Homo sapiens: one gene and its partner. The protein of the gene in region 1 purifies or fractionates together with the protein of each later gene. This does not show direct contact. Each region holds a gene or a part of one and is shown on either strand. Other genes may lie near its edges.

Evidence for each region.
Region 2: the proteins of ELF5 (region 1) and QDPR purify together in Homo sapiens (affinity purification with mass spectrometry; one large-scale study listed by BioGRID and IntAct). This does not show direct contact.

Annotation. Positions count from the first base shown.
Region 1 is NC_000011.10:34,503,795-34,507,294, forward strand, and holds part of ELF5 (ETS-related transcription factor Elf-5), read right to left. Parts: intron 1,960-3,500; coding exon of another isoform or gene 1,956-1,959; coding exon 1,835-1,955; intron 1-1,834. UniProt on the Homo sapiens protein: Transcriptionally activator that may play a role in regulating the later stages of keratinocytes terminal differentiation. Isoform 2 binds to DNA sequences containing the consensus nucleotide core sequence GGA[AT].
Region 2 is NC_000004.12:17,491,591-17,495,090, reverse strand, and holds part of QDPR (dihydropteridine reductase), read left to right. Parts: intron 1-2,750; coding exon 2,751-2,859; intron 2,860-3,500. UniProt on the Homo sapiens protein: Catalyzes the conversion of quinonoid dihydrobiopterin into tetrahydrobiopterin.

The DNA of each region.
Region 1 (3,500 bases):
CGGACTGTGTCCTAAACACTTCCCATATGATAACTCATTTCATTAGCATAACAACTCTACAAGGTAGCATTGTGGTCATTCCCATTTTACAGATGAGAAACTAACTGGGACATGAGAGGTTAAGATGACACAGCTAGTGTCAGAGCCAGACTTCCCATTTGGGACACACCAGGTCTTCATGACACAGAGCCGCTGCTTCACTGCCCAGGCCATTGCCTGGGGCAGCTGGTTGTAGCCCGCCCCTCCCACTGCCACCCCAACTACTTCCCAGCAGAATAGGCAGAAAGAGGGGGCTCTCATGATGGCAGGTCTGGGTTAAGTGAGGCCTGGCCTTATGCATAGGTAGAGAGAGAGCCTGGAGCTGGGCCCCACCACTGTGGGAAACATAGGGAGGGCACGGCGACTTGAAAGTTTTCATTTTCCTCCTTCAGATTTAACCTGTTAACCAAAGTTCAAGGGAAGGAGACACAGTACATTTCTCATGTCTTTCTGGGAAACAAGGTGCTTCTTAGGCCTAAAGGAGAATTGTAAGATGTATCTGTTTGATTCAAGTCCAAATGCAATGATCTAGACCTTACAGATGAGGGTGAGAGATTTCACATGTGCGTGTGTGTGTGTGCACGCGTGTGTGTATGTGTGTCCATGTGGGGTGGGGGCAGGTGTGGGATTGCATTATGTAGGTAAGTGCCTCAAGTCTGTGAGTGTGGCCTGGTCCCTGGCCCCAGAGGCAGGGGCTTCTGGTAGTGGACTTTTTGCAGTCCCTGGAGGCATGGCCTCTCTTGCACACTGCCTGCCTCCGGACACTGAGTCTGGACTCCTACATGGGGTTAACACTCAGTGAGGACTGACAGCTTGATTGGCACTTGCATGACCGCTGAGCAGCGTGTGCTCCTGTTGTGCCAGCAGTCAGCCAGGTGTGCTGTGATATGTGGTCACCCAAGCACCTCAGTGACAGAGGCCCTCAGAGGGTTTCTGGGGGCAAAGCTCGGCTGGCCTCCCTCCGGCATGGGATTTTCTCAAGGTCCCATGCTGCCTTCTCAGGTGGAGAAATCCAGGCTGAGAAAGAGGAGGGAGGGTGGGGAAGGAGGCCTGGGGAACAGTGAGGGGCTCATATTTACTGAACACTTGTTTTGTGCCAGGCTACATATTTACACCCTTTGGCTCCCTTAGTCCTTATAGTAGCTCTCATCACCCCTGGTTTAGGGAAAAAGAAATAGAAGCTCAGAGAATAATGATATATTAATATCAATAACCACAGTGTGATATCAATTATAAGATGGGTCAACTTGCATGGAGCTTAACTGTGAGGCCCAGGGCAAGTCACTTAGCCTCTCTGTATCTCAGTTTCTTCATGTATAAAATGGGGATAATAATTGTTCATCTCATAGGGCTTTGGCAAGGATGAGATGGTGCTTGGCACAAGGTTTGGTACACAGCTCGTGTTCAGTAAATGTTGGCTAAAACCACCATGACCAAGCAAACACAGCATACCAGGTCCTGGGCTAAGGGCTTTCTTTCTACTACATTGTTTAAATATCATAATAACTCCAAGAGACGTACATTTTACTTGGCAGCAAAACGAGGCTCAGAGAGGTTAGCTGAGCCGTGCACGGCCTCGAGGCCACAGAACTAGGGAGTTTGGGGGTGAGGGTTCCAGCACCTTTTATCTGCAAGAGGTTGCCCTTCCTTCCATCCAGGAGCCCTCCAGCCCTCTGCCCTGAACTCTGGTGTTCCTAGGCCCCAGCACAGCTTTGTCTTCCACCTGCGGCCAGCACCACCTCCTGCCCTAGCCCATCCTGGCTGCACTCAGATGGGCTCCTTCAAATGTACGCACCTGTCTGATGCTCAAAGGCAGGGTAGTACTCTTCATTGCTGAACAGATCAGTCCACGACATCAGGGGATCGCAGAAGGATGCATTAGGCAGGAAGGTGCTGTGTGTCACCGAGTCCAACATTACCCTGCAACAGCAGGAGAGGTCGTGAGGAGGCTGGGGTGAGGTACTCCTGAAGCCACACTGTGCAGGAGCCCCTAGCAGGGCGATACTTGTTTTTTAAAAATGATAACAAATATGTCACTCACTAGGAGCAGGCACCGCCTAGTGTCACCTACGAGTGACATTATTCCACCCTTGCCATATCCTGTCTATCCCCATTTTAGATGAGAAAACTGAGGCAAAAGGGTTGAGACAATTGCCAAAGTGATATAACTAGAAAGTGGCAAAGAGGGGACTGGAGCATGGAGGCTCTGATTATGCAATATTGCCTCTTTATTTATGTTTCCTGTTTGCTCACATCTGACCCCTGAACTCTGACTTATGATGTTCAATAATATGCTTCTAGAAACAGCGTGAGATGCAGCCATAAGAAAGAACAAGATCATGCCCTGTGCAGTAACACAGATGCAGCTGGAGGCTATTATCCCGAGCAAATTAAGTCAGGAACAGAAAACCGTATACCTCATCTTCTCACTTAGAAGGGGGCACTAAATGTTGAGTACTCCTGGACATAAAGGTGGGGACAATAGACACTGGGGACTACCAGAGGGAGGAGGCAGGGAAGGGGGCCAAGGTTGAAAAACTAACTACTGGATACTATACTCAGTACCTGTGTGATGAGATCAATAGCACCTGAAACCTCAGCATGGTGCAATACACACAGGTAACAAACCTGCACACATACCCCCTGAATCTAAACTAAAAGTTGAAATAATAAAAATAAAATAAAATTGTTTTTTTTAAAAGATGTAATCCTGCTCTGTCGCCAGGCTGGAGTGTAGTGGTGTGATCTAGGCTCACTGCAACCTCTGCCTCCTGGGTTCAAGCGATCCTCCCACCTCCACCTCCCGAGTAGCTGGGTCTACAAGTGTGTACCATCAAACCTGGCTAATTTTTGTATTTTTAGTAAAGATGGAGTTTCACCATGTTGGCCAGGCTGGTCTCGAACTCCTGACCTCAAGTGATCTCCCCTTCTTGGCCTCCCAAAGTCCTGGGATTACAGGTGTGAGCCACAGAAACTGGCCGAAAAAAATAAATAAATAAAAATGAGGTAAGAATTACTGTGTGTGATTAATCCATAATTCTGAAATCTGAAAGCTCTGAAAACTGAAAGGAAGTGTGTGTGTACGTGTGTGTGTGTTTGCTGCAATCTTATTTTCTAGCACAAAACAGTCCTGAATTGATGTTATATAGTTTTATATACTGTTTCATACATACATACACATACATACAACATATATATGTTATACAGTTTTATAACTATGGTTGCAGTTTTATTTATTGCACTGAGTGAATATTCTTATGATGCAGTGCAGAAATATTAATGTTTAGAGCAAACCCTAAACCCTGAGGGGTAATCTGTACTCCACTGTATATATACTATCTCGCCTTCCTAAATCTGTGAAGAATTCAGAATTCTGCAGCATGTGCGGCCCAAGGTTTTGGAGACGAGTGTGGACCTGTGGTAATTGCAACAAGCACTTCACTTTGGGCTTCATGCTGAGT
Region 2 (3,500 bases), on another chromosome or scaffold:
TGATGAGCTGGGAGAGTGGGAGAAGCATCACCCCCTCCCTGCCGCAGTCACTGGGAGAACATCTCCCTGGCAAGGTGCTGAGCAAAGCCCCTCCTACACCAGGCTGGGCTCCCTCCGCCCTGATCGGGTTCTGTGCGTGCCCTCCATGGTTTCCAAGGCCCTTGTTGGATGCAGTCTCCTTCCATCCTCAGCAGAGCCTTGTGAATAAATTGTGATCTGAGTTACCACTCCCACTGACAGATGGAAAAGCAGGCCCACAGAACCTGTGATTTTTTTTGGTGGCTGGAAAAACAGGAGTTAGGGCTGCACTTTTTGAATTCCAAGTTGATGACCCTTTTTGCAATTCCTTATTGCTGTCCGAGGAAAAAGAGTTGCCAGTGACCTGCTGAGAGTCATGAATGACAATAATGGCCAGGATTGAGTGTTCCTCTGTGCTCAGTACTGTACAAAGGGGATTTGTTAACCTGGAAAAAAAACAATCAATGGAGTTTTATTACTTGACATAATTAAGGAGGATGCTGGAAGTATTCTCCAAAGCAGCGTCTCTCCCAGGAGGGTTTCATGGGGTGATGGAGAGGGGAAAGGGTGTGTCATTGCATGTGGAGGAGGGGTCCCAGTGGCACAGATGCAGTGAGTCATCACGCCAGCACATAGTCACATGTTCTGGTGATGAAGCTGTAGCTCCTCCCGGGTGGAGACTGTAGCATGGTAATGAGGAAAGTCCACTTGGGATCATCTCTATAAGTTGCTGGTTTCACCTGACTTGGTGACTGCATTCCATGCAAGTTGTGGGAAAAACCAGGCTGAAGGGCAGGAGCCTGTGAAACAGGCTGATTGTTCAAGCTGATGAAACTCCTATAGTCCTTGGAGACCCTCCCTGTCTGCTACACTTGTACATGGTATTTTATTTGATTGTTGTATTATCCTTAGGATTTGGGATTGTCATTCCCATTTCACGAAATGGGAAACTGAGGATTCCAAGGTTTAGTAGCCTCTCCCAGTGTCAGTCACTAGCAAGCAGCAGAGCCTGGACACGAAGCCAGGTAGTCGGGTTCCAGGGCACATTACTTCTATTGATTTGATGGGAAACCTTCATTGAGTGCCTGTCCTGTGCTAAGGGTATGCTCACAATTAAGTACTCTATTCCTGTGTGTCGTTATGAGCCCCTCTGGATCACACCTGAGTTTATACTGATAAGGTGATTAGTAGGTTGGGGCCCCTAGACAGCCTCAGGATGGAGCTACTTCTTAGAATGACCAAGCAATTAGGAGGTTAGAACTTTCAGCTCCACCTACCGACCTCCTGGAAGGAAGCAGGGGCTGGAGATTAAGCTCTATAAAAACTTACAGATGTGATAAGCATCTGGGTTGAACACATGGAGGGCACTGGGAGGGTGGCGTGGCTGGAGCAGGCGTGGAAGTTCCATGCCCACCCCCTCTCCTACCCTGCCTCTGTGTCATTCCACCTGGCTGTTCCTGAGTTGTATCCTTTATAATAAACCAGTAACTATAAAAAAAGCGTTTGCCTGAGTTCTTCGAGCCATTCTAGCAAATTATTGCACCTGAAGAGGGGGTTGTGCAAACCCCTGATTAAGCTTGTTGGTCAGAAGTCTAAGTGGCCCAGGACTTGTGACTGCCATCTGAAGTAGGGTAGGTCTTGTGAGACTGAGCCCTTAAATCAGACGGGAGTACAGTGACGTGATCATAGCTAATTGCAGCCTTGACCTCCCCCAGGCTCAAGTGAACCTCCCACCTCAGCCTCCCGAGTAGCCGGGACCACAGGCATGTACCAGCAGGCATGGCTAATTTTTGTAGAGATGGGGTCCCACTACGTTGCCCAGGATGGTCTTGGAACTCTTGGGCTCAAGGGATTCTCCTGCCTCAGCCTCCCAAAGTGCTGGGATTAAAGGCACGAGGCACCACACCTAGCTGGGAGTTCTAATTGAATTGTCAGACACCCAGTTGGTGTCTGGAGACTTAGAGAATTGACTGTGTTAGAAAACACCTCAAACCCATTTTACAGATGCAGCAACTGAGGATTAGAGAGGTTTTGGGAACTTTCCCAGAATTTATTTAGTGGTAAGTGGAGGAACTGGGATTTGAATGTGTGTAATTTGACTTTAAGTCCTATACTCCAAGTGACTGCTTGATTTTGCTGTCCCATTGAGTACCTCTGTGTGCCAGGTGCTCACAAGCATTTAGTGATCAAAAGGTTCAGAACCCATTTCTTGCCTGGGCTTTAACCTCTCCATCAGCTTTGGCACAAGTCTGTGTGTGAGCCTGGCATGTACTCAACCTGTCTTGAGTCTTGGTTTCCTAAGAATAAAAATAAGATCAACCTTCTGGCTTTTGTAATAAATGTTAAGTGTTAGATGAATAGTAAGTACACCTGAAATGTCATGTCTCCTCCACTTTTCTCTCCATAAATGTTCATTTATCTTTTCTTCCTGGCCTCTTCTGGACCCTGGAATGCTGCAGCTTGGATGCACCGGTGGCCTGTGTGAAGCCTGTGTGTTCTTGGAAACTGGCCAGAGGCCATAATTCCCAACCCACGTGTTCCCATCCCCTCTTTCTCGTGGCTCTCTGCCATTTTTTGATGGGGGTTGGTGAGGGCGTCTGACCTGAAGGAGGAGGCCAGATGCAGCTATTTATAAAGTTTTTAGGGAATAGAGATCTCAAGAGAAGATTGCATGTCCTTGCTGTCCCCCTGGCCGCCAGTGGTCACTGAGCCATCTTCTCCCCATTTCCCAGGTATGATCGGGTACGGCATGGCCAAGGGTGCTGTTCACCAGCTCTGCCAGAGCCTGGCTGGGAAGAACAGCGGCATGCCGCCCGGGGCAGCCGCCATCGCTGTGCTCCCGTAAGTGCTTGGGGTTCCCTGGCTGCTGCCCACCTCTGCCCCACTGCTGCAGGTGACCGTTTGTCTGACTGTAGCTTTCCACAGGCGACCTGGGTGTGCTCTCACCTCTGGTTCTGAAACACACCAAAGTCTCTTAAGATACTTATTATCTTAATCTGTTTGAATTGCTCTAACAAAATACCTTAGACTGGGTGATTTATAAACAGCAGAAATGTATTGCTCACAGTTCTGGAGGCTGGGAAGTCCAAGATGAAGGCACCAGCAGATTTGGTGCCTGGCGAGGGCTCATTCCTCATAGATGGCGCCTTCTATATGTGCTCACACGGTGGAAGGGGCAAATGGGCTCCCTCCAGCTTCCTTTATAAGCATGCTAATCCCCTCCTAAAGGCCCCCACTTGTCTCCTGCAGACCCCACCTCTTAATACTATTATGTTGCAGTTTGTGTTTTGTATGTGAGTTTGAGGGGGATACATTCAGACCATAGCAATACTTCCAGTTTTGGGTTCTCCTGGGCTGTCCAGAATGTTTGATTGGCTGGTTGGATGGGTCTGTCTTTTTTGCCTCTTTTTTTCCTCTCCCTTTCTTTTCTCCCTTCATTTCTTCCTTTAAAATTAGACTACACATTTTACTTTTTTATATGT